Regions from separate parts of the Homo sapiens genome. Here all the other regions are linked to region 2. Evidence: fine-mapped expression QTL. A gene starts in region 2. Each other region holds a variant in brackets. All regions are shown on one strand. Distances are between the middles of the regions.

Region 1 (10,302 bases), 31 kb before region 2:
ATTTCAACCTTGGTGAATCTGACAATTATGTGTCTTGGGGTTGCTCTTCTCGAGGAGTATCTTTGTGGTGTTCTCTGTATTTCCTGAATTTGAATGTTGGCCTGCCTTGCTGTGTTGGGGAAGTTCTTCCGGATAATGTCCTGAAGAGTGTTTTCCAACTTGGTTCCATTCTCCCCATCACTTTCAGGTACACCAATCAAACATAGATTTGGTCTTTTCACATAGTCCCATATTTCTTGGAGGCTTTGTTTGTTTCTTTTCACTTTTTTCTCTAAACTTGTCTTCTCGCTTTATTTCATTGAGGTGATCTTCAGTCTCTGATATCCTTTCTTCCACTTGATCGATTCAGCTATTGATACCTGTGTATGCTTCACGACATTCTCATGCAGTGTTTTTCAGCTTCATCAGGTCATTTGTATTCTTCTCTAAACTGGTTATTTTAGTTAGCAATACCTCTAACCTTTTTTCAAGGTTCTTAGCTTCCTTCCATTGGGTTAGAACATGCTCCTTTAGCTCAGAGGAGTTTGTTATTACCCACCTTCTGAAGCCTACTTCTGTCACTTCGTCAAACTCATTCTCCATCCGGTTTTGTTCCCTTGCTGGTGATGAGTTGTGATTCTTTGAAGAACGGGCATTCTGGTTTTTGGAATTTTCAGCCTTTTTGCACTGGTTTCTCCCCATCTTTGTGGATTTATCTACCTTTGGTCTTTGATGTTGGTGACCTTCAGATGGGGTCTCTTAGGGTACATCCTTTTTGTTGATGCTGATACTATTCTTTTCTGTTTGTTAGTTTTGCTTTTAACAGTCAGGCCCCTCAGCTGTAGGTCTGCTGGAGTTTGCTGGAGGTCCACTCCAGACCCTGTTTGCCTGGGTATCACCAGCGGAGGCTGCAGAACAGCAAAGATTGCTGCTTGTTCCTTCCTCTGGAAGCTTCGTCTCAGAGGGTCATCCGCCAGATGCCAGGCAGAGCTCTCCTCTGTGAGGTGTCTGTCGGCCCCTACTGGGAGGTGTCTCCCAGACAGGATACACAGGGGTCAGGGACCCACTTGAGGAGGCAGTGTGTCCCTTAGCAGAGCTCGAACACTGTGCTGAGAGAACCACTGCTGTCTTCAGAACTGTCAGGCAAGGACGTTTAAGTCTGCTGAAGCTGCGCCCACAGCCACCCCTTTCCCCAGGTGCTCTGTCCATGGAAGATGGGGGTTTTATCTCTAAGTCCCTGACTGGGGCTGCTGGCTTTTTTCAGAGATGCTCTGCCCAGAGAAGAGGAGTCTAGAGAGGCAGTCTGGCCGCAGTGGCCTTGCTGAGCTTCGGTGGGCTCTGCCCAGGTCGAACTTCCCGGTGGCTTTGTTTACACTGTGAGGCATAAACCGGCTACTGAAGCCTCAGCAGTGGCGGACACCCCTCCGCCTACCAAGCTGAAGCATCTCAGGTTGGGCTCAGACTGCTGTGCTGGCAGTGAGAATTTCAAGTCAGTGGATCTTAGCTTGCTGGGCTCCGTGGGGGTGGGACCCACCAAGCCAGACTACTTGGCTCCCTGTCTTCAGCCCCTTTTCCAGGGTGGTGAATGGTTCTGTTTCTCTGGCGTTCCAGGTGCCACTGGGGTATGAAAAAATAAAAATTAAAAAAAAAGCCTGCAGCTAGTTTGATGTCTGCCCAAACAGCCACCCAGTTTTGTGCATGAAACCCACAGCCCTGGTGGGGTAGGCACTGGAGGGAATCTCCTGGTCTGCCGGTTGCGAAGACCGTGGGAAAAACACAGTATCTGGGCTGGAGTGCACTGTTCCTCCTGGCACGGTTTCTCGTGGCATCCCTTAGATAAGGGAGAGAATTCCCCAACCCCTTGTGCTTCCCAGGTGAGGCAACACCCAACCTTGCTTCAGCTCACCCTCTGTGGGCTGCACCCACTGTCCAACCAGGCCCAATGAGATGAACTGGGTACCTCAGTTGGAAATGCAGAAATCACCGGCCTTCTACGTCCATCTCGCTGGGAGCTGTAGACTGGAGCTGTTCCTATTCGGCCATCTTGGCAGCCTCCTTACACTGAGGGGGATTATTTTTAATACAAGATAAATAGTTGTTTGTAGGGTGATGGAAAAAATCTAGTACAAGTGATGTCAATACCAAAGTGGAAGGACAGTGTTCTGGGAACAGGATCTTAGACTAAGCCAAAAGGCTTGGGATCTCATCCACAAAATAAACAGTTTGCCTGAAGTGGTGGGAGTGTGGGTGCCTCATCCATAGGAATAGGAGACAAGTTAGAGCATATCGGCACAGATGTAGGTAGGTGTGTAGATGCTGTGGTAGGAGCTTCATAGTGCTGCTTTTCTGATTGCTTCTATTTTCTTAGCAAATTAGGAAGTAATTAGCTGAAAGAGAATGCAAGGGAGTAGAAAAAATAAAGTAGGAAATAATCATCTAGAAGGAAAAAGTCCATCAACTGAGAGAGAGATAACGGAGAGGGGAGAAGGTATGAAGTAATCATCTAGGTGAGAGGGAGAGTGAATGGACCTGAGAGACAGAGAGAGAGAGAGGCTCACTCAAGTTGTATAGTGATCAAGTTAATGTGTTTGTTTTTCCAGCCACTTTTTATCTGCATGGTTGCAGGCAGAGACTCAGTGACAAGGTGAACTTAACTATAAAGAGCTGTAGTTTAGCCAGAGGAGTTTAACAAAGCCCAAGAAGAACAAGGAAATTGAAGATGTATGCAAATATGTAATGGTAATAATTGGCCATGGAACTTAAACTGAATAAGGAGGGAAGTAGTGTTTGTTAAAGGTCTTGATTATTTGTATATGAAAAGCAAAACAATCTAGTAAATACATTGTGTACCACTGAAATATTTGTTTCAGACTTTGTAGAATTCCTTTGGGATCCTTTGTCAACCTCACAGACAACAAGTTTAATAACACATTGCAGAGTGATTCTTGAAGAACATTCC[A/G]CTTGTGAAAATGAAGTTAGTAAAAGCAGACAGGTAATAATTTCTAGAGTTGCGAACTCCATGATCTATCTCTAAATCATTATAATTTTCTTACAGATCTTGGTTTATAAAAGATGCAGAAGTGATTATCAGAAAACTGTTTGGGGGAAAACATATTTACTTTTGATTTATAGAAACTAGACTTTTTCTCAGACTGCACTGAGATGAAAAAAAAATTTTTTAAACTGGACTTGGCTATTTTTTATCTTTATAATAATAAGATGAAAGAATATACCTTGATACTTCTCAACACTGTGATAGGAGTGGTAATCATTTTAAATTATAGACATACATGTAAGGACCCAGATTATGACTTTCATTCCTATTAGCTTACTTTTCTCTGTTCAGTGATCTGATTTGTGTTCTCATGGCCCAGGCAGCCATCTTTCAGGATTATGAATATACACTGGCCCTGCAGAGATGAACCGGTATAAATTCATTAGTGCAAATTCATTTCTTCTAAAGGAAGACAACAATACTCATTACCTTTGTTCTTTTGGCAAAAATCCAGTGGCATTGTGGCTTTGCTTGAACAATGGTTTCAAAATTAGACTGACACTTATTGTATTAACTAGTTATTTGTAGTCTACCAAATAATAGTAGTCTCTTTAAGGATTCAAAGTTCAGTAAAACAGATCTTAATCTTACAATGATCTAGAATTGAATTCAGTGAACATAAGACATATTGGGGAACTTTTTAGAGTGATGTTGCTGAGAATCTTCTCACTCTTTCATTGTAGCATTTTTTTTTATTGTTTGTTGATGAGATTGTAGATTCATGCAGTTTTATGAGTAAACCAATTTTAGGTTGAGCTTTAGGAAATTAAGGAGAAATTGACAGACTGGAGAATGCCCGGAGTAGAATGACAGAGGTGGTTGAAAAGCAAGGAGGCATATCATATTCATATTATGAGCACCATTAAGTTTTAGCCCTTGGAACTGTGATTACAAAGGAGGATAGCTGTAAGAAATGAAAGGGAGAAAAGGGATACCAGCCTAATTCTGCCTTCAAGAAGCATGTAATCTCAGAGAAAATAAGATGCACATAAACTGTAACTTAAAACTGGAAGTGAAAAGGAGAAGTAGGGAAGATAACAAACACTTATTTAATTCCAATTGTGTACTAGGCACTCTGTAAGGTCTTGTACCTGTCATCTTAATCCCAGCAGCCCTATTTAAAAAATGGGTGATCGCCAGGTATGGCAGATCACGCCTGTATATCTGAGTGCTTTGGGAGGCTGAGGCAGGAGGATCTCTTCAGGCCAAGAGTTCAAGACCAGCCTGGGCATCATAGCAAGATCCATCTCTACCAAAAAAATAAAAATTAGCTGGGCTCCCCCTTGAGCCCAGGAGTTGAAGCTGCATTGAGCCTTGATTGTGCCACCACACTGCAGCCTGGGCAACAGCAAAACCCTGTCTCTTAAAAGGATGACAGCCTCATTTTATAGATGAAGAAAATGAATCTTTAAAACTAGTTGTCACAGTGCTACTATGAATGAGCACTAGGATTTGAACTTGGATAGTCTGCCTCTAAAGCCCAAGTTTGCCTCACTGACCATGTTGCCTCCCCTTGAGCAGCATAGATAAAGTACTGTGTCTTCAGGAGAGAGACAGGAGAGAGAGGTTACCTTCAGCAGTGGGGATAAGGAAATAATTTATCTTAGGGGTGGCATTTGAACTGTGGCTTGAGGGAAAGAATAGGATTTCAACATGTGGCAACAGAGAGAGAGGCATTTTCTGCTTACCTCCAATAGGATAAAAACTCAAGTAAAATAGATGGAAACTGTTGCAGGAATTAGAGATATTTAATTTGAAAGATGTACAGAGAGATGCTGTTTGTATTCAAAGAAGGTATAGATTTATTCTGTGCTGTTATGCAGCATAGAACCAAGATTAGTAGTTAAAAGCTACAAAGAAGCAGATATATAATCCTGCATTTGCTTTCCATATAGTATTGTTTAGTTATAACCTAAATGTAAATCATTATGCTTTACCATTTGTTAAATACTTTCACATTGTCTCATTTGATCCTCATAACCCTGTGAAATGTATTTATTTTAATTGCATTTTTACAGATGAAGCTGGGGCCCAGAAGGGTTAAGTCATTTTTGAAATACTTGAATACTAAGTGGTAGACCTGGCTCTTTGTGATCACTGAAGCCCTTCAGCAGTATTATGGATTCACTCATGAAGTCTTTTTTTTTTTTTTGAGGCGGAGTCTTGCTCTGTCACCCAGGCTGGAGTGCAGTGGTGTGATCTTGGCTCACTGCAACCTCCGCCTCCCAGGTTCAAGCAATTCTCCTGCCTCAGCCTCCCGAGTAGCTGGGACTACAGGCACCTGCCACCATGCCTGGCTAATTTTGTGTGCTTTTAGTAGAGACGGGGTTTCACTGTATTAGCCAGGATGGTATTGATCTCCTGACCTTGTGATCCGCCCACCTCGGCCTCCCAAAGTGCTGGGATTACAGGCAAACTCAAGCAGTTTTTATAATGGATGTTTTTATTCTGAAACCGCTCTGCTGTGAATGTAGAAAATGGGTTGTTTTCATAAGCAGGAGAATAGATTACATCAGGGTTTTCAGTCTCAGCACTACATTGGCATTTGGAACAGATAATTTTTTGTTGTGAGGGTTTGTCCTGTGCACTATAGTATGCTTAGCAGCATCCCTGGCTTGTGCCCACTAGGTGGCAGTAGCACTCCCCGGTCTTCACAACCAAAAATGTCTACACATTGTCAGGTATTCCCTAGGGATGGCAAAATGGCACTTGGTAGAGAATCACTTACACTATATAATGCCCCATGTTGCTAAGACAGTTCACCAGTGGGATCACTCCATTTCTTCAGTGATGAAAGAGAATGAGGTTCAAGAATGAAAATTGAGTCAGACAACATAGTTTCTGTTTTCAAAGTTAGAAGGAAATGCTGTAAGCTAATGCCTGGTAATAATAGTTTTGATTCTGACTAAAAATCTAAAGTAAATTATTATAGAGGAAGATTATGAATACTTAAATTTAAAAAGCAGTAATTACTATAATCTGTCATTGATAGGATTCCCAAATACAAATGATACTTAACATTGTTTATTGAAGCAAATTGTTATTATGATTGTTCTTAGGGATTAAATGGGGAAATATAAGCTTAAGTAAACCTAAAAAATAATGGCCAGTAGGGCATTGGCTACCTATGGGGAGTCTGTTAGTATTAGATATCTTCTCAGCTTTGCCCTGTTCAATATTTTTATTGAACTGGATAAGGAGTTAAAATACATACTAATGAAATGTGTCAGTGACAAAAAGCTAGGAATTCTGTAAGACTTGTGGATGGTAGAATTAGAATCCAAGAAGATTTCAAAAGATTGTAGAAAATTGACTGATTCAAGAAATTGTGAAAAAATAAATGCATGTCCCACCCATGCGTTTAAAAATTCAACTATATAAGTAAAAGATGAGAGAGACACAGTTTTGAAGCAGCATAAGTAAGACAGATTATAATCAATAAACCCAGCGTGAGTCAGCAGTGTCACTTGAGTAACAGAAAACAGGTACATGGGAGTTTCTCCTAGTATGTGTGTGCTATTTTGAGTAAGAATGGCATATTTGGTGATAATACCCACAGATTAGACCTTCCTGGGAATATTGCATTTAATTTTCGGTGTAAGCATATTAAGTGGAGAGTGTCTTAAGATAGTATGGGAAAGAGAAGATGTAAAAAAAAAAAAAGTATGATATTCATCTTAAAATCTAGAAAATTGTCATGTGGAAGTGGGGCTAGTTCTATTCTATATGATCCCAAGAAGTAAACCAAGACCAAGGAGTGGAAGCTGTGGGAGGGAAAAGTTTGTTAACTCTCATTGTTAACTGAAATCTAATAGTCCAAAGTTATGGGCAGCCTCAGGAGATAATGATCCCCTATCAGCAAATGGTTTTAGACATGGCTGGTGGACCATTTAGTAGAAATGTGAAAATAAGTCTAAACATCACTTGGGAGTTCAGATAGATTTTCAGACTCATTTTTTGTTTTTTCTTTTTTATCAACAGAATCTATTTCAAATAAATCTTACGCAATCCGATACGCAAACACACATACAGAAGTAAAACTGCTCCTACTGTTGTGAGCACCTGCCTTTATTCTTCCCCAACCATCCCCAACATTTGTCCAGGCCATCCTGGGATTACCTCCATGGATATAGAGAACAGCATAAAAACCATTGGCATCACACAAGTGCCTCTTTAAAGCTGTTTCAAAGTATATATATATACACAAAGGGTTGTATGTGAGTCTGAAAGTGTGATTCAGAATGCTTGTTAAAACTGTTTGGAGAACCTTATTTTCCATCAAACAAATGATGTTATTTAATACTTAGAAAAGTTAATATCTCACGGTTTTAAAATATGTGAATTTATGGGAGGTTTCTTTTCTTTTTTTTGTTTTTTTTTTTTTTTTTGACAGAACCTTACTCTGTCACCCAGGCTGGAGTGCAGTGGTGCAATCTCAGCTCACTGCAACCTCCACCTCCTGTGTTCAAGCGATTCTTGTGCCTCAGCCTGCCAAGCAGCTGGGATTACAAGCATGTGCCACCATGTGTGGCTAATTTTTTCTATTTTTAGTAGAGACAGGGTTTCACCATGTTGGCCAGGCTGGTCTCAAACTCCTGGCCTCAAGTGACCCACCCACCTCAGCCTCCCAAAGTGCTAGGATTACAGGCATGAGCCACGGCAACCGGCCAGTGAATTTATGTTTTGTTTTAAACAATTTATTTGGAAATATTAATACTTTGAAAGAAAACTTTCATGAATAAGAGTAGTATTTCCATATTCCCTTTACCAAGATTTACTTGTCATTAATATTTTGCCCCATTGGCTTTATCATTAGCCCTTCCATTTTAAATATATACATACAATATGTTTTCTCCTGAGTACTGAGAACAGGGTGCATATTTGTTAAGACAAGGATATTATGTTATATAACCAGAGTAGTTAGCAATTTCAGTAAATTTATCAACACTTAATCTACCATCCATATTCCACTTTTGCCAGTTGATTCAATAATGTCCTTTATAACATTTTCAATAGAACTATTTTAAGAAACAAAATTTAAACAATATGGGAACATTTGTCAAGGCCAGCATCCAAAATCATTAAAATTAAATGAAAAAAATCAAAGCAGCTTTTTTTGTATCATGAACACCTAACTCAGTAAGTTACATAAACTCAGATGCTATTTTTTGGAGATACTGTCTAGAAAATGCTTTTTTTTCTTTGAACAGAATTCAGAATGTTTAAAGAATGGAGTAAAATACAACTGAGTTTTAATTTTTAACATTAAATAAATGTTGATATATGGCCACTTGAGGAATATGTTATAGATAATTAAGTGGAAAGAGAAACGACTTCAGGTCATGCTTTTTAAGAAAAATATATTTGAATTCTACATTTATGGATAATTCAGTTAGTATATAGTATGTGACAGTTGAATTTGTGCTGTATACATTGTCATTGACTTAAAAATTAACTTTTACTCTAATGTGTAGTATGCCATTTTTATTTTTCAAATATGAATAAGAATATCATTATATAAATAATATAAATATTGCTAATATATGAAAAAAATAAACACTCATTGTCTTTCATCCTAGTACAAGGATTAATACCATCGTAGGATATTTTCATCCTGGCTTTTTTTTCAAAGTTATAATCCTAATAGGCATGTAAGTTAGTATACTACTTCTGCTTAATGTTATCTCATTGCGTATTTATAGTTGTCTGTTACTGTAGTCATCATAATCTTCAGCTAAAGTTTATGATAGATTCACTGGAGCGATGTAACATCTCCTTAAAATTCCCTGTGATTGAATAGTTTGGTCATTTCCAATTTTTTTATGTACAAACAAAATGGATTTCCCTAAGTGGATTTTCCAACAAAGGACCCACAGCTGGAGTATATAAAAGACTTGTACAAATCAGTAATAAAAAGACAGAACCTAATACAAAAAAATAGCAATGTTGGCAAGCAGCTTAATTAGGTACTTTGCAAAACGGCTTGCCAAGTGGCAAATAGGAATATGAAAAGATGCCCAACAGCACATTACTCAATGATAATTAAATGAGAATTAAAACAACAAAATGAAATATGACTGCATACCCACTATAATTGCAAACATTAAAAAACAAGAAAATGCCAATTATCGTAAGTATGTAGTGAAACAGGATTTATTTTATACTGCAGGAATGATGTAAATGGGATGCCACTATTCTAGAAACCGTTTGGTTTTTTGTACGTAGTTGAACGTATGGACATGAACTGTACTCCAGCCATTCCATTTCTATTTATATACCCATTAGAAATGTATGACCATGCATACTAAATGACATGTACAAGAATTTTTATGGCAGCATTATTTATAATAGCCACCAAACCAGAAATCACCTAAGTGTTCCATCAATAGTATTCATGCAACAAAATACTATATAGCAATGAAATTGATCCAACTATACCCATATGTAGCAACATGGATAAATAAGGTTTTTTTTGTACCCAATTGATAGTTATTTTAACAGCTGGTTATGTGAGTGTGGATAAATTTGTACTGCAGTTAAAATTACTTTTTTTTTGGTAAATACATTTCTATCTTCTATCACTGATGCTTTTCAAATTTGTAATAATAGGATTTACTTAAATCCATTGTTTCAAGAATGAAAAAGGCAGTAGAAGATGATGTTTTTATTCCTCTGTATCCAAAGAGGTAAGCGCTGTTAATTTCTAGATTGTTGGAAATAGCTGATCATAGAATACAGATTTGTTTAAGAATGCAATGCAAAAGAAACTACAGTGTTTTATTTTTTGTTTTGTTTTTTGTGTTTCTTTTTTTTTTTTCTTTTGAGACTGAGTCTCACTCTGTCGCCCAGGCTGGAGTGCAGTGGCGCGATCTCGGCTCACTGCAAGCTCCGCCTCCCAGGTTCACGCCATTCTCCTGCCTCAGCCTCCCATGGCTGGGACTACAGGCGCCCGCCACCACGCCCGGCTAATTTTTTGTATATTTAGTAGAGATGGGGTTTCACCATGTTAGCCAGGATGGTCTCGATCTCCTGACCTTGTGATCCGCCCGCCTTGGCCTCCCAAAGTGCTGGGATTACAGGCGTGAGCCACCGCGCCCGGCCAACTATAGTGTTTTCAAAACATGTGTACACATACTCTATGAGGATGCAAATTGAGATTTCAACAAATATTTCTCAGTGACTTACATAAAGCCGTGCTTTATCTTGGCGCTTAGATGAATTTTGTTTGGTTGGTTTTGGTTTTGGTTTTACATATATCCTAGGAACAT
Region 2 (10,942 bases):
AAGAGAAGTGAACTTTTTTTTCAGCACACCCAGCTGAGAAGTAAACTTTATATAAGATGCAGAAACAAACAAATAGCATTTCTAGATAACTTAACTTCCTAAATGTTTTAATGTAGGAATAAATACTTCATATGAGCATAACCCAGATATGTAAAAAACAATCTTCTTTTGCTTTTTAAGAAAACTAACCATCCAATCACAAACTAGCCATCCTAATTACTAATAATAAAAACATACAGCTCTTACTGACCAACATAGAACTCTGGAATGTGGAGTACTTTTCTCCTTTCTAACATATCTTTTCTTTCTATTTGAAATTTCAGAGGATCTGTTCTTCCCCTTCGAGGAATGAATTCAGGACTCAAGAACCTGTAAAAAATACAAATAAATAATTAAAAGTAAACTCAAAAGGCTGCTAGAAGAAAAATTGTTGCTTTTCAAAGAAATTAAATATGATATTGATGTATTTTATTCTTCATTGTCTAAATAAAAGTCAATCTTATTTCTAAAATTGTTAATGCTCATGAAAATAGCTAACAATTCCTGAGTACTCACCTGGTATTTTGTTAAAAGCTTTATGAAACATCTATAGCATAAATTAATCCTTCTAGCAACCATGTGGGTTTGGTGTCATCTCCTTTTTACAGAGCAAGAAACTGAAGCTTGAAAAAGGTAAATAACTAACCCATTGCTACATTAGCTATAAATCTGTCAAATCAAGATTTAAATGTAGGTATGTTGGTCAGTCTCCAAAGCCTATAACCATTACTACAGGCCTCACACTGAGCTATACATGCTATAATAAATTATGTCAGAAAAGACATCAACATATAAATCACTAATTATAAATTGACTTTTAAAATGATCTTCCTGATCAGAGAAGATGGCCCTGGAGATGGTGCTGAAGGACCTGGGGCATCTGCAGGCTTGTTGGCTGTGTTTGCTGGTCAAGACTATAGACCAGTTTGAATATGAAGGTTCTGACAACTGTAACACCTATCTACAGACGAAGAGTAACTGAGATGGTATATGACTGCACTAGCTCTTCCTTTGATGGAATCATTGCAATGATGAGTCCAGAGGACAGCTAGGTCTCCAAGTGGCAGCGAGTCAGTAACTTTAAGCCAGGTACATATGCGGTGTCATTCACTGGTCACCTGCCCCAAGGAATCGTGTAGGAGCTGAAAAGTCGAGGAGAGACCTACAAATCCAGAGACACAGCTGCAGCACATCGTGTCCCTGAACCATTTTCTCTTCCTTGGATGACAGGTGCGGGTGGGAGGGATTTGGGTTGGTGGATTAACAGATCGAACTGAAGAGAAAGTAGGATGCTGATTTTCCTATCCATGGCCCAGGGATGCACCTTGCCCATGGCAAGGACTCTAGGTCAAATGCCAATAAATATGAACCTCTAGAAAGTTCTTAAGGCCATGATACATTCCTTGCCTCCCTCTCCCTTTCTCTTAGGCACAGTAAGAGCTTGTTTATGCTGTAAGAATCTTCCCAGAACAGCAGAGGCCCTTCTACTCCCTACTGACTGTCTCTGAGCCTTCTGTACTGCAGCCTTTCTAGTGTGCTTCCTTGCTTCCAATCAGAAGGTGCTGTCCAGAGGCTAGGTAATCCCATCAGCTTGGTAGTCCTGGGGTCTCGTGGTTGTATCTTTCTGCCCTCTAGACCTGGCACAGCAGTATCCCTTGAAGAAATCCTGAGGCTTCATAGTGCTCTTCGCTCCTTGACCACGTTTAATAATTCTTGCTTTTCCCCCTCCTCGTCTCTTCTCTTCTGTTTACCGCTCTTCCTATACCTTAGGCCAGTCTCACATCCCTGCATTTCACATTCTCCTAACTGGAGACCCTTGGGCCTTAGGCAACTGCTGGGTCCTAGTCTGCCTTGTTTGTGCCTCTGTAGGAGGTAAGTCCTTCCTTTTCTCCTCTGGCCTAGTAGGGGACCTTGGGTAATGTCCCATTTTGGCCAAGGTGAGGTATTCGTTTTAGAATAAAAAATTCACCATAAATTCTCATTTACTTAAATTTCCACAGAAATCCTGTTAGTGTCCCCGTTTTGATTTCCCTAAGTTGCTGGTTCTCCCTCTGTAAAAAGAGAATGATTAGACCCTGCCTGTTTACCTCAGGATTGTTGTGATTGTAGAAATGAAGCTATGTGAAAATTGTGTAAGTCTTACAAAGGTGAAATCCTTTTGCTTAAAAAATAATAATCTTCTTTTTTTCTTCTTTAACTGATTTTAAGCTCATTATGAAATATTTAATCTACATAAAAAGTATAAATGACAGTACAATGAATATTCATGTCTTTACCACCCACCTCAAGAAATAAATTATCAATATTGTGGAAGCCCCTGTGTATTTAGGATAGTTCATTACTATCCTAAATTTGGTGATTATTCCCATGAATTTCTTTCTCTTCCTCAATTTTCTACTTTGAAAATTTTAAAGCCTACCAAAAAATAGTAATACAATGAACACCTGTAGATCTTTCATCCACTTTTACCAACTGCTAAAATTTTGCTATATTTGCTTTATATACACATATCATTTTTTTCTGAACCATTTGAAAATGTCAGCCAGGTGTGGTAGCTTACGTCTGTTATCCCAACACTTGGGAGGCCGAGGAGGGTAGATCGTTTGAGCCCAGGAGTTCCAGACCAGCCTAGGCAACATAGTGAGACCTCATTCTACAACAAAAAAATTTTTAAAATAGCCAGGCATGGTGGCGGGCACCTGTAGTCCCAGCCACTTGGGAGACTGAGTAGGGAGGGGCCCAGGAGTAGGAGTTGCAGAGCCAAGATCATGCCACTGCACTCCAGCCTGGATGACAAAGCAAGGCTCTGTCTCAAAAAAATGGAACAGCAAGGCATTTCATCCCTCAATAATTTAGAAGGCTTATGCTAAGAATAAGGACTTGCTCCTATATTATCACGATACCCTTCTGACACCTATAAAAGTCAGCATTAATTTGATAACATAATCTAATACAAAGGTATCCAATCATCTGGCTTCCCTGGGACACACTGGAGGAATTATCTTGAGCCACACATAAAAGACACCAACAATAGCTGGTAAGCTTAAAAAAAAAAGGCACAAAAAAAATCTCATATGTTTTAAGAAAGTTTACAGATTTGTGTTGGGCCACATTTAAAGCTGTCCTGGGCTGTGGGTTGGACAAGCTTGGTCTAATACAGAGTTCATACTCAAATGTATGTCATTATCCTGGGAAGGTATTTTACATCTATTCGTTGCCCAATTCAAAATACAATCAAGCTTCACACATATTTGGTCATTAGTCTCTCAGACTAGGACTTTTTTCCAACTTTGTATTTTTATAACATTAACTTTTTTGAACAGTCAAGGCCTACTATCTCATCTCTGGATTCTGGATTGTTTCCACATGCCTAGACTAAGGTTAAATAATTTTAGTAAGAATATTACAGGGAGATGATGTGAACAACTTATTCTGTCACATCAGGAGACACATAATATCAACTGGTACCAATACTGGTAAAGTTAGGTTTGACTGTTTGGCAAAGTTTCAGAAGGCCCCCCTTACATTTCTTTTTACTTTTCATATGCATGTATGTCTGGGCAACATATATTGTTTCGTATAATTTTGTTTTTGTTTTTTTCTGAGACAGAGTCTTGCTCTATCGCCCAGGCTGGAGTGCAGTGGCACGATCTCGGCTCACTGCAACCTCGGCATCCTGTGTTCAAGCAATTCTTCTGCCTCAGCCTCTCGAGTAACTGGGATTATAGGCACATGCCACCACACCTGGCTAATTTTTTTTTTTTTTTGTACTTTTAGTAGAAATGGGGGTTTCGCCATGTTGGCCAGGCTGGTCTCGAACTCCTGACTTCGTGATCTGCCCTCCTCGGCCTCCCAAAGTGCTGGGATAACAGTCGTGAGCCACCGCACCCGGCCTATAGTTTTAAAACTTCATAAAAATAGCATCCTACTACATTAATGATTCTAAAGGTTTTTTTTACACACAGATTTGTGAAAATCTTCCATGTTTAAAAGTGAGCTCTAATTCACTCATTTTTCACTGCTATACAATATTCTGTCATATGAATGTATTTGCCTGTTCACCTACTGATGGATATCTAGGCTGCCTCTAAATTTTGTTACAAAAAATACTGTTACATTCATTCTCGTGCTTGTCTCCTTGTACATACACGTTAGGAGTTTAAGTTGTGTGCTTTCTGAGTGAGAAGGTATACACAACTTAAACTTAGTAAATTCTGTCAAATTGTTCTCTAGAGCATATAATTTACATTCCTATTTAAGTGAATTCTATTAAATGCCACTGTTTAAAAGAGATATTCCATTTCTACCCTCAAAAGCAAAGTTTTATGAAGAAATATTTTCTGAATCTCTTAGTTCTCTAACTCCAAGTTTACTTCTATTTAAATCCGTGGAATATTTTAAATGTTAAAAAAAGAAAAGAAAAAAAAAAGCCAGGCGTGGTACCAGTAGTTCCAGCTACTCTGGAGCCTGAGGCGGGAGGATCACTTGAGCCCAGAAATTTGAGGCTGCAGTGAGCTAAAATCACCACTGCACTCCAGCCTGGGAGACTGAGAGAGACTCTGTCTAAAAAAAATTTAAAAAATAAAAAAATTAAAAATCCCAGAAGTAATCCAATCAATAATCTACAGCCCTTTCAAAAAGCCTATAATCATATCAGGTTTTTCCTCTGAAAACTGGCTTTTTAAAAAGGTTGCTACATAGCTCTCTTTTCAGACCTTAAGTCCTTTAAATTTACATGTACCTCCAAGATTACCACCATTCATATAAGTTTTTATTCACACTATTTTGATGAGTAAGTTTCAGACACAATTTAGTGGCCAGTTTTACTGTGCTTTGTCTGCCAAAACTTCCAACCTAAACCATAGCAAATTTTTTAAGTTGGCCAATCGATTCCTATCCAGGGTTAAGGGTCTTTTGAGAGAAAAGAAGAGCTCTTGGACGTAAACAGGTATAAACAGGATATACCTCAGAGAAAAACTCTGGTACAGGACAAATACCACAGAGAAAAGAGTTTAAAATATGGGGAACCCCTACTTGAAGTTCTGACTCAATAAAACTGCAAAGAAGTTCAATGCTGGCTTGGGGAGAAGTGAGAAAGAAAGAACAGTGTGGTGCGCTGGCTCTTGAATCCTACACACCTGCTCGTGCAGGGGGAGGTGCAGCCCCCACCTTAGAGCCGGGACCTCGAACGCGAACGCGCTCACGCGCGCACCGACCCCAGTTGCCGGCCTAGCGCCAGGGCAGTGCCTCACCTGCGTTCCGGTTCCACGGGGCGGTGCTTGTCCACGATGACCGGTTTCGGCGGCGGTTGGAACGCACCGGGCTCGGAAGGCCCAGTGCTCTGCTGCCGGACAGGCCCCGCGTGGACCCCTGCGGGAGCGGACGACGGAGGTCAGAACTCTCGTGCCAACCCTGAGATCCCGCAGAGCCCCGCAATCTCCCCCAACCCGGCGTCCCACGGGGGACCAACGCTGGGGTTGCCTCTGATCTCCAGGTTCGCCTCCCCCATCCTGACCCTGGGCCCCTAACGCGCCCCAGCTCGCAAGTCCGGCTCCACTTACTGCAGGCGATAGAGGCCGGCGGGGGGAGCAGAGTCCTGGCGGCTTGGAAACTCCGGCCTAGGCCCATTGCAGCCCAGTGCCCCGCTGCAATGCAGGCCGCCATGCCAGCTAGCTCACGTCAAGACTACAGCTCCCAGTAATCAGTGCGACGAGGTTGTTGCTGTCTGCCACCATATGGCGGCTGCTATGGGACAAAATGGATAAGTCTCTCCTCGCTCCTTTCCTGATGTCTTAGGAAAAGTGCACGTTTCTCTAGTTCCTCGTAATGCGCCAAGTTACACCCCTCCACAGGGGTGTTCTCCCAGCCTAGAAAGCTTTTTCCTCCCCCTATGAATCCACTCTATCTTCTCAGACAAGCTTTCGCTATGCGAAAATCCCATTGTAGGCCGTCTTTCCCACTGGGTGCCTTCGATTGGCAGCTCTGATCTCATTTGCAATTCTTTCTTGTGTAATTATTAGATTAGTATTTAAATCTGCCATTATACTATAATGAGGCAAGGGAAGGGATAAAGTCTTCTTTTTGCTCACCATGTTATCCCAGCACCTAGCACCTACCTGGGCCCTCACTAACATCTTTTGTTTTGTTGAGACAAGGTCTTCCTCTGTTACCCAGGCTGGAGTGCAGTGGCGCGATCATGGCTCTGCAGCCTCCAACTCCTGATGTCAGGAGATCCTCTCACCTCAGCCTCCCGAGTAGCCAAGACTACAGTCTCGCACCATCACGCCCAGCTAATTTTTCTAATTCTTTGCTGAATGCACAGAAAAGAGAATAGAATAGTTCCTGACAGAACTGCTGGCCCATAGTCCTTGAGACTACACAAAGCATTAACCCTTTGAGGAACCCAAATGAATTTGGGCTGGGCAACTGTGGGTATGGATAGGTGGGAGAAGTAAAGCTGGAAAAGGTAAATTGTAAGTCTTGTTAAGAAATTTGGAAAATGACTGGGCGTGGCCAGGCATGCCTGTAATCCCAGCACTGTGGGAGGCCGAGACAGGAGGGTCCCTTGAGCTCATGAGTTGGAAACCAGCCTGGGCAATATAGTGAGACCGTATCTCTAAGAAACAAACACACAGCCGGGCGCAGTGGCTCACGCCTTTAACCCCAGCATTTTGGGAGGCCGAGGCGGGCAGATCGCCTGAGGTCAGGAGTTTGAGACTAGCCTGGCCAACATAGTGAAACCCCGTTTCTACCAAAAATAAAAAAAATGATCCAGGTGTGGTGGCAGGCTCCTGTAATCCCAGCTACTTGGGAGGCTAAGGCAGGAGAATCGCTTGAACCTGGGAGACAGAGGTTGCAGTGAGCCGAGATCGCGCCATTGCAACAAGAGCGAAACTCCGTCTCAAAAAAACAGAAAAAGAAACACACACAAAAAAAGAAATTTGGAATTTGTTATTTCAGCAGTGGTTATATAAGGATTGAACACTTAGAGTAATGTGATAATTTAACTACATAATAGTCATTCCAGTTGCATTAATGTCCCAAAGCTACCTCAAATTCAGCCTATCCATACTGAGTTCATCTTTTTCAGCTCCAGACTTCCTTCCCAGTATTGGCTATCTCAAGGAATGGCTTCAGCATCCACTCTCTTGCCTAAGCCAAAAATCTCAGTGCCATTCTTGATTCCTCCCTGTCTCCTCCTGGATGAAGTTCCAAAAACTATGCCTGACACCGTCAAATATCTCAGGAATCCATATACTTTCTCATCCTCCCATCCATATTTCCAATCTAGGTCAACATATTTTCTCTCTTCAGGATCCCTGGAGATCCCTGCAACAGCCTTCTCATTAGTCTTCTTGCCTCTGGTTACCTCCAGTCCTTCACGCAGCAACCAAAAAAAGATGGCTCAGAAATGCATACCCTGTTCTTTCCTTTCCCCAGTTTAAAGCCTTACTGTTTACTTTTGACAGAAGTCAAATGCTCATAAAAGCAACCAACCTCTGCAGCTTGGCCTCTATACTCTGACTTGCCATCCTGAAGAACATGAGCTGTTACATCAGCCTGAGGAACAGGGCCATGTTTTGAGCACAGAATTCAAGATGCTGTGAAGAAAGACAGGGCCTTCTATTTTAACTCTAGCTTCTTTGATTAGAACAAGAATTTATTCTATAAATGACAAGGAATCTCACAACCAAAATTTCAGATGAGCAATATTTTGGCTCTTCTACCTACCCGAAAAAGTAGACTTCAAGCCCTTAAGAGTAAAAGGGAGGAGAGGCAAAGATAATCATGACTGGCAGTGGTGAAGATTTTTCTGTATTAACCATGCCCAGAACACGTGGCCTTCACTCTTGCTGGGATTGGTCCTAAAGGTAGGGGCAGAGAAATAAAAGACAGACCTTCACAGGAGGACAGCAGGATTTACTAGACATTGCCAAGCCACTCCTGCTGCCCTCTCCTCTTCCACAGATGAAGGAATAGTTGTGTAGAGTTTTACAAAATTGGAAGAATGAACCTAAAGAATCTTATCTAATTTTCTCCCGTATTCTTGCTCATCCAACATATATCAGGCCGTTTTGACCTTATCTTAATTTGGAGAACAAGCTGGAGTTTAAATTATTCCAACTTAAGTTGTTATTAAACAACTTCATAGAGCAAAATCAAAGAGCACAGAGCTGGCTCAACCATTTTATGAGCTGATCACAGGAATAGAACTTTAATTATTTACTTCTGTGTTTTACACCCTTGGAAAGGAGATCATGAACATCATTACATAATGTTCAGCCAAGGGAAGAAAGTATTCCAGGCAAACTGGCTGCTTCAGGTTATTGTGACATCAGGATCCTTGTCGGTTTTGCTTGTTATTACATCCTCTATATTTAGTAGAGTATCTGGCACCCAATAAATATTTCTAAGTAAAATTAGATAGATCATTCTGATTGTACTTTAGAAAATGGCTGGGAAGCAGGAAATTATTGAAATATTCCAAAAGAGAGATGGTGCTAACCTGGAACAGAAAAAAAAAAAATGGTTCTTAAAGTGTGAGCCCTTGACTAGCAACATCAGCACAACCAGGGAACGTGTTAAAATTACAAATTCTCAGGTCCCGCCCCCAGACTTACTGAATTTAAAACTCTGGGCACAGAACCCAGTGATCTGTGCTTTAGCAAATCCTCCGGTGATTCTGATAGTTGTTCCAATTTGGGAACAATTGAGGTAGAGGCAATAGAGATAGAAAGTGGTATTTTTTTTTCTGTCTCTCCATCTATTTGTGAGGTAGAGTCAGTAAAAAAAATTTCTGAAATGTACTAACTGGAGTCTTTGAGAGAGGTTCCCATCTCTGCCTTTTCTTCTTCATGGGTAATAGGATAGAGGTATGCCTACCTCATTGGGTTGGTATAAGGATTAAATTGTGATAATGCATAAAGTTTGCAGATAAATGTATAGATCATAATAAAATTCTTTTTTTCCAACTTTACTGAGACATGATTGAAAGATAAAAATTTGTATATATTTAAGGTGTACAACATGATGATTTGATATATGTATGCAATGTGAAATGATTATCACAGTTTAGCTAATTAACATATCCTTCACCTAATTAAAAAAAAAAGCTTTTTGTAAAACTTATTTTAAAGATGCCAGCAAGAGGAAACTATAATCTGATTCATGTATTAACACATCCAAAAAAAGAATCTCCTATTCCTAGAAAACCGTAAAGATGCTACCAAAAGACGCCTAGACCTGATAAACAACTTCAGTAAAGTTTCAGGATACAAAATTAATATGCAAAAATCAGTAGTATGTCTATTCACCAACAGTGTTCAAGCTGAGAACCAAATCAAGAATGCAGTCCCATTTACAATAGCCACCAAAAACATAAAATACCTAGGAATACACCTAATCAAGGAGATGAAATCTCTACAACAAGAACTACAAAACACTGCTGAAATAAATTATAGATGACACAAACAAATGGAAAAACATCCCATGCTCATGGATTGGAAGAATCAATGTCACTAAAATGTCCATATTGCTCAAAGCAATTTACATATTCAACGACATTCCTATTAAATTACTATCATTTTTCACAGAACTAGAAAAAAAAACAATTCTAAAATTCATGTGGAACCAAAAAGAGTCCAAATAGCCAAAGCAATCCTAAGCAAAAAGAGTAAAGCAGGAGGAATGACATGATCTGACTTCACACTATACTACAAGGCTACAGTATCCAAAACAGCATGGTACTGGTACAAAAAGAAACAAACAGACCAATGGAACACAATAGAGAACCTACAAATAAAGCCGCATACCTACAACCAACTAATCTTCAACAGTCTACAAAAATTAGCAGTGGGGAGATGACATCCTATTCGATAAACGGTGCTGGGAAAACTGGCTGACCATATGCCAAAGAATGAAACTAGACCACTACCTCTCACCACATACAAAAATTAACTCCAAATGAGTTAAAGACTTACATGTACGACCTCAAACTACAAAAATCCTAGAATAAAGCCTAGGGCATACTCTTCTGGACATTCACCTAGACATAGAATTTATGATTAAGTATCACAAAGCATAGATGGAGTGGTGAGATTAAGCGTGTTCCCTGCTTTTGCAATTTTTCTAGCTACATTTTCTGTAATAGGTACATTTTGGTTTTACAATGAAAATCAATACACTATTTTAAAAACACAGCTGAGCGTGGTGGCTCACACCTGTAATCCCAGCACTTTGGGAGGCCGAGGCAGGCAGATCACAAGGTCAGGAGTTTGAGACCAGCCTGACCAACATGGTGAAACCCCGTCTCTACTAAAAATACAAAAATTAGCAGGGCATGGTGGCGTACCTGTAATCCCAGCTACTTAGGAGGCTGAGGCAGGAGAATCACTTGAACCTAGGAGGCGGAGGTGGCAGTGAGCCGAGATCGCGCCACTAGCATGCCAGCCTGGGCGACAGAGCAAGACTCCATCTCGAAAAAATAAATAAATTTAAAAAAATAAAATAAAAACACAAATGCACTGACTATGATAGTTCTTACTTCCTTTGCTTCACTCTGAGGGAAGCCAGGTACCTGTTATGAGCTGCCCTATGGAAAGGTCCATATGGCAAGGAACCAATGTCCCCAGCCAACAGCCAGCAAGGCTGCTTCTTGCCACAGGAATGAGCTGGCAAGCAGACCTTCCCTTAGTTGAGCCTTGAGTTGACTATAGCCCCAGCCAACCTCTTGATTGCAGCATTGTGAAAGACCTGGAGTCAAAATCACTCAGCTAAGCCACTTCTGGATTTCTGACCCACAGAACCGTACAATAATAAATGTTTGTTGTTTTAAGCTGCTTAATTTAGGAGCAATTTATTAAATAGTAATAGATAGTGAATAAAGGAGTGTATGTGTGGTGGG
Region 3 (5,378 bases), 39 kb before region 2:
TTAACATATGAAAAATTATCCTGATTATATTAGTTGCTTAAATTCCCTTACTATTGTGTTAGGCATTAAATACCTTACCCTTAGAGTCGGAGCTGAAATTTAGAGCTTTGGAACAATAGTCAGAAAATGTGTGCTTTCGGCTACATTCTTCTTTTCTTGGCTGTCACTTGATTTTTAGGCTAAGCATCATTAACATCAGTAAAGCAAACACATTTTTTTTTAGCTTCTTGTACATTAAATTTAAAATCCTCCCAGAAAGTATAAGGTACTGTTGGGTTTGGAGAAAGTAGATATAAAAGCCTTGTTTCAAGAATTCTTAAGTTGGAGATGACATACTGGGAAGAGTTGCTTAGGGTTGTGTTGAGAAGGTGGAATGCAAGCCTTTGAAGAGTTTATGGGGTAAACAGGATGAATCAGAAAGGGAAAGGTGTTTCATAAAGGTGTAAAGGGAGAAGTATTAGTTCAGGAGCTAGAAATTGCACAGATATTTAGATCCTAAGTTAAGGAATATAAACTCTGTTCACTGAATTTGACTGACTAAAAGAAAAAAAAAGAAGTATGAACTCAGCAACTGCCTACTGTGTAATAGGACCTTTAACTAAATCACATACAAATTACATATTTATGCTTAGTGAATTGAAGGGGCCAGAAATAAACTTTGCTTGAAGTGGATGAATTTTTTTTATAAACAAATTCCATGGCTGTTTCAAGTGCCTAACAAATTTGTATTTTGCTCCAAGCAGAGTACTTGCCATGTGGTAGGGTCTAAAGGCTCCGGCACACACTAGGTAGTTGTTGAGTGTTTGTTGTGTGATTGAATGCATGAAATGCAGCTTCTTCTTATGTTACTTAGACACCATGTCTCAGTCATGCTGTCCTGCAATCCTGCCTAGCCTTGGTGGTCTAGTGTTAAAATAGGGAATTAATCTCTTCTGATCCTTAGAAAAGCTCTGGTGATTATTGAAAAAAATAATAACTATTTAAAAATACACTAATGTTGAAAGATTTCTTTATAACTTTTGTAATTTTCTTTGTAAGTTGGAATCCACAGGTTTAAAAGAGATGCCATGGTTCAAATCTGTAGAAGAATTTATGGATAGCAGTGTGGAAGATTCAAAGAAGGAAAGTAGTTCAGATAAAAAAGTCTTGTCTGCAATCATCAACAAAACAATTATTCCCCGACTTACAGGTACTGCTTCGTAACCTTGGTAAAATTAAATTATTTTCTGACAGAGTATATAAGGTTGTTAATTTCTGTTATATTCACAAAGTTTTTTCATAAGTTTTTAATCTCAAGGAAATGTTATATGTAGTAAAAATCAACAGCTGTCAAATGTAAGGTGGTTAAAAAATTTGTGTTTGTACAGGTGGTTGGCTACCAAACTGCTAATACTCAGATTGATCACTAATCCTCATCTGACGTATCATCAGCAGTTCCAACAGTTGACCCTTCTTTCTTCCTAGAAACACTGTCTTTACTTGGCTACCAAAATACCACACTCTTAGTTTCCTGCCCACCTCTCTGGTCTTTGCTGTCTGCTTGTCACCTCTTTGACTTCCAAGTGCTACAGTATCTCTGGATTCAGGTCACTTACCTTCTCTGTTCTATTTACTTCAGTCACTTAGTATTTAAAGTCAGTTTAGTGTTTGTGGCATTCCCGCTGCTTTTATGGCACTTCAGTCATTTTTTAGCACACTTCCATCCATACTACATGTGTCCTTTTTTCCCCTTAACTTCTCTAATTGTGTTTCTTATCCTTTTCTTTAAAACCATTGCTTCATCTGGGAGTGGTGGTTCATGCCTGTAATCCTGGAACTTTAGGAGGCCAAGGCAGGTAGATCACCTGAGGTCAGGAGTTCAAGACCAGCCTGGCCACCATGGCGAAACCTCGTCTCTACTAAAAATACAAAAAACTAGCTGGGTGTGGTAGCAGGCACCTGTAATCCCAGCTACTCAGGAGGCTGAGGCAGGAGAATTGCTTAAACCTGGGAGGCGAAGGTTGCGGTGAGCCGAGATCGTGCCATTGCACTCCAGCCTGGGTGACAAGAGTGAAACTCCGTCTCAAAAAAAAAAAAAATTGCTTCATTTCACTCACATTTGCCACTAGCAGCTATGAGCACTTAACATTAATGCTTGTGCTTCAGACCTTAGCATGAAGTCTTTTGTTTTACCTGTGTACTTGATAAGGATCCGTTTCACTATGTCACTGAGAAAGAAATTTGACAGCAAAGACTGCAAAACTCTTATTTAATTTTTTGTGTGTTTGTTTTTGAGACAGGGTCTTCCTCTGTCACCCAGACTGGAGTACAGTGGTGTGAACATTGCTCAAGTCAGTCTTGAATTCCTGGGGTCAAGTGATCCTACTGCCTCAGCCTCCCAATTAGCTAGGACTCCAGGCGCGTGCCACCATACCCAGCTAATTTTTAAAAGATTTTTTTAGAGACAGGGTCTTGCTCTGTTGCCCAGGCTAGTCTCAAACTCCTGGCCTCAAGAGACCCTTCCCCTAAGCTTCCCAAAGCACTGGGATTATAGGCATGAGTCACCA[T/C]GCCCAGCCTAGAAGTTGGAAGCAATTAGCCTTATAATTGCTTCTTAGGCAACTTGATTATAAGATTTTGGCTGGGTGGAGTTGCTCATGCCTGTAATCCCAGCACTTTGCAAGGCCGAGGCAGAAGGATCGCTTGAGCACAGGAGTTCCAGACCAGCCTTGGCAACGAGGTGAAACCCCATCTCTATTTATAAATTTAAAATTTAAAAAAAATAAAAAATAAAAACTTTCAAGATTTTATTTCAATGAAACTTATGGTGCATTTGTGGGGTGTGTTAGAAAGTTACTATTTTTAACTAACTCTACTAATGATAGAATGCATGTGCCTAGTTTAAGCACTCTGCTGAAAAAATCTAAATACTAATGATGAAACAGTCCCACAAATAAGTAGCTTTGTGAGAAATTAACACTGACTGAGTCCAAATAGTGATTGAATTCTACATATATTTCAAAGATAGCACTAACAGAATGTGCTAATGGATTGGTTGTGCAGCAAGAGAGAAAGAGAGGAATCAAGAATGGGTCCATTGAGGAATTGGCCTGAGCAACTGGAAGGACAGAGGTGCCATTTCCTGAAATGAAAAAGTCTGACAGGAGTAAGCTTAATGTGGGGAGCTGTATTAGCATAGCAGCTCAGTTTGGGACATGTTGATTTTGAAGTACCTGTAATCTAAGTGGACATGTCAAGTCAGTTGTTGAATACATGAGTCTTAAAGGGGGAGGTCCAGTCAGAAGGTATAAGTTTGGAATTTATCCACATGACATTTATTGATGGCATTTAATGTATAAAATTGACTTTGAATACCAAGCGAGTGAATATAAACCGAAAAGAGAAGGTAAGTGACCTGAATCCTGAGATACTATAGCACTGGGAAGTCAAAGAGATGACAAGCAGACAGCAAAGACCAGAGAGGTGGGCAGGAAACTAAGAGTGTGGTATTTTGGAAGCCAAGTAAAGACAGTGTTTCTAGGAAGAAAGAAGGGTCAACTGTTGGAATTGTTGATGATAAGTCAGATGAGGATTAGAATCAATCATTGGAGTTTGCTATGTGAATGTCATCTGTGATTTGCTAAGAGCGCATTAGGTAGGCTGATAAGAGATAAGGCCTAATTAAAGGGAAAGCAAGAACAAGTGAGAAGAGAGAAACTGGAGATAGAAGTTTAGATAGTACTTTGAGGAATTTTGTTGTAAAAGATAGGAGGGAAATGGAACAATACTAGAGGAGGAAGTAGGGCTAAGGGGGATTTTTTGTTTGTTTATTATTATACTTTAAGTTCTGGGGTACATGTGCAGAACGTGCAGGTTTGTTACATAGGTGTACACGTGCCATAGTGTTTGCTGCACTCATCAACTTGTCATCTACATTAGGTATTTCTCCTAATGCTATCCCACCCCAGTCCCCTGACCCCCAAAAGGCCCCGGTGTGTGATGTTCCGCTCCCTGTCCATGTGTTCTCATTGTTCAGCTCCCACTTATGAGTGAGAACGTGCAGTGTTTGGTTTTGTGTTCTGGTGTTAGTTTGCTGAGAATGATGGTTTCCAGCTTCATCCATGTCCATGTCCCTGCAAAGGACATAAACTCATCCTGTTTTATGGCTGCATAGTATTCCATGGTGTACATGTGCCACATTTTCTTAATCCAGTCTATCATTGATGGGCATTTGGGTTGGTTCCAAGTCTTTGCTATTGTGAATAGTGCCACAATAAACATACATGTGCATGTGTCTTTATAGCAGCATGAATTTATAATCCTTTGGGTATATACTCAGTAATAGCATGGCTGGGTTAAATGGTATTTCTAGTTCTAGATCCTTGAGCAGTCGCCACACTGTCTTCCACAATGGTTGAACTAGTTTACAGTCCCACCAACAGTGTAAAAGTGTTCTATTTCTCCACATCCTCTCTTTTAATTGTGATGTTAGGATGTCGATTTTAGATCTTTCCTGCTTTCTGTTGTGGGCATTTAGTGCTATAAATTTCCCTCTACACACTGCTTTAAATGTGTCCCAGGGATTCTGGTACGTTGTGTGTTTGTTCTCATGGTTTCAAAGAACATCTTTACTTCTGCCTCCATTTCTTTATTTACCCAGTAGTCATTCAGGAGCAGGCTGTTAAGTTTCCATATAGTTGTGCGGTTTTGAGTGAGTTTCTTAATCTTGAGTTCTAATTTGATTGTACTGTGGTCTGAGAGACTGTTTGTTATGATTTCCATTCTTTTGCATTTGCTGAGGAGTGTTTTACTTCCAATTATGTGGTCAGTTTTAGAATAAGTGTGATGTGGTGCTAAGAAAAATGTATATTCTGTCGATTTGGGGTGGAGAGTTCTATAGATGTCTATTAGGTCTGCTTGGTCCAGAGCTGAGTTCAATTCCTGGATATCTTTGTTAATTTTCTGTTTCATTGATCTGTCTGTTATCGACAGTGGGATGTTAAAGGCTCCCACTATTATTGTGTGGGAGTCTAAGTCTCTTTGTAGGTCTCTAAGAACTTGCTTTATGAATCTGATCTGAGTGCTGCTGTATTGGGTGCGTATTTATTTAGGATGGTTAGCTCTTACTGTTGCACTGATCCCTTCACCATTATGTAATACCCTTCTTTGTCTCTTTTGATCTTTGCTGGCTTAAAGTCTGTTTTATCAGAGACTAGGACTGCAACTCATGCTTTTTTTTCTTTTTTCTTTTTTTTTTTTTTTTTTTTTGCTTTCCATTTACTTGGTAAATATTCCTCCATCCCTTTATTTTGAGCCAGTGTGTGTCTCTTTACATGAGATGGGTCTCCTGAATACAGCACATTGATGGGTCTTGACACTTTATTCAATTTGCCAGTCTGTGT

Direction of the effects. Positions count from the first base shown, and alleles are read on the strand shown. Sizes are in standard deviations (SD) of each study's normalised expression.
With allele A in place of G in region 1, the expression in thyroid of the gene that starts at base 5,728 in region 2 is higher (small effect, 0.12 SD a copy in GTEx).
For the expression in amygdala of the gene that starts at base 5,728 in region 2, allele T in region 3 goes with a higher level than allele C (moderate effect, 0.54 SD a copy in GTEx).

The links. PIP is the estimated chance that this variant, and not a neighbour inherited with it, causes the effect.
Region 1: its variant is the best candidate, but not a certain one, in a credible set for the expression of MRPL19 in thyroid (GTEx, PIP 0.51).
Region 3: its variant is the best candidate, but not a certain one, in a credible set for the expression of MRPL19 in amygdala (GTEx, PIP 0.64).

What each region holds. Positions count from the first base shown.
Region 1 is chr2:75,672,862-75,683,163 of GRCh38, reverse strand. GCFC2 (GC-rich sequence DNA-binding factor 2) reads left to right here. Exons shown (of 17, transcript NM_003203.5): 12 at 2,850-2,971; 13 at 9,644-9,720. It overlaps LOC124906025 (a long non-coding RNA gene), which reads right to left. Exons shown (of 2, transcript XR_007087113.1): 1 at 3,312-10,302. Among named protein-coding and RNA genes, the nearest start is that of MRPL19, 31 kb to the right of the region's middle. The variant A/G (reference allele first, on the strand shown) is at 2,939.
Region 2 is chr2:75,641,569-75,652,510 of GRCh38, reverse strand. It overlaps MRPL19 (mitochondrial ribosomal protein L19), which reads right to left and starts at 5,728. Exons shown (of 6, transcript NM_014763.4): 1 at 5,601-5,728; 2 at 5,292-5,409; 3 at 251-369. The coding sequence starts at 5,703. It also overlaps the pseudogene SUPT4H1P1. RefSeq lists enhancers at 5,499-5,798, 5,634-5,928.
Region 3 is chr2:75,683,638-75,689,015 of GRCh38, reverse strand. GCFC2 (GC-rich sequence DNA-binding factor 2) reads left to right here. Exons shown (of 17, transcript NM_003203.5): 11 at 1,039-1,189. All of the region lies in intron 1 of LOC124906025 (a long non-coding RNA gene), which reads right to left. Among named protein-coding and RNA genes, the nearest start is that of GCFC2, 25 kb to the left of the region's middle. The variant T/C (reference allele first, on the strand shown) is at 2,547.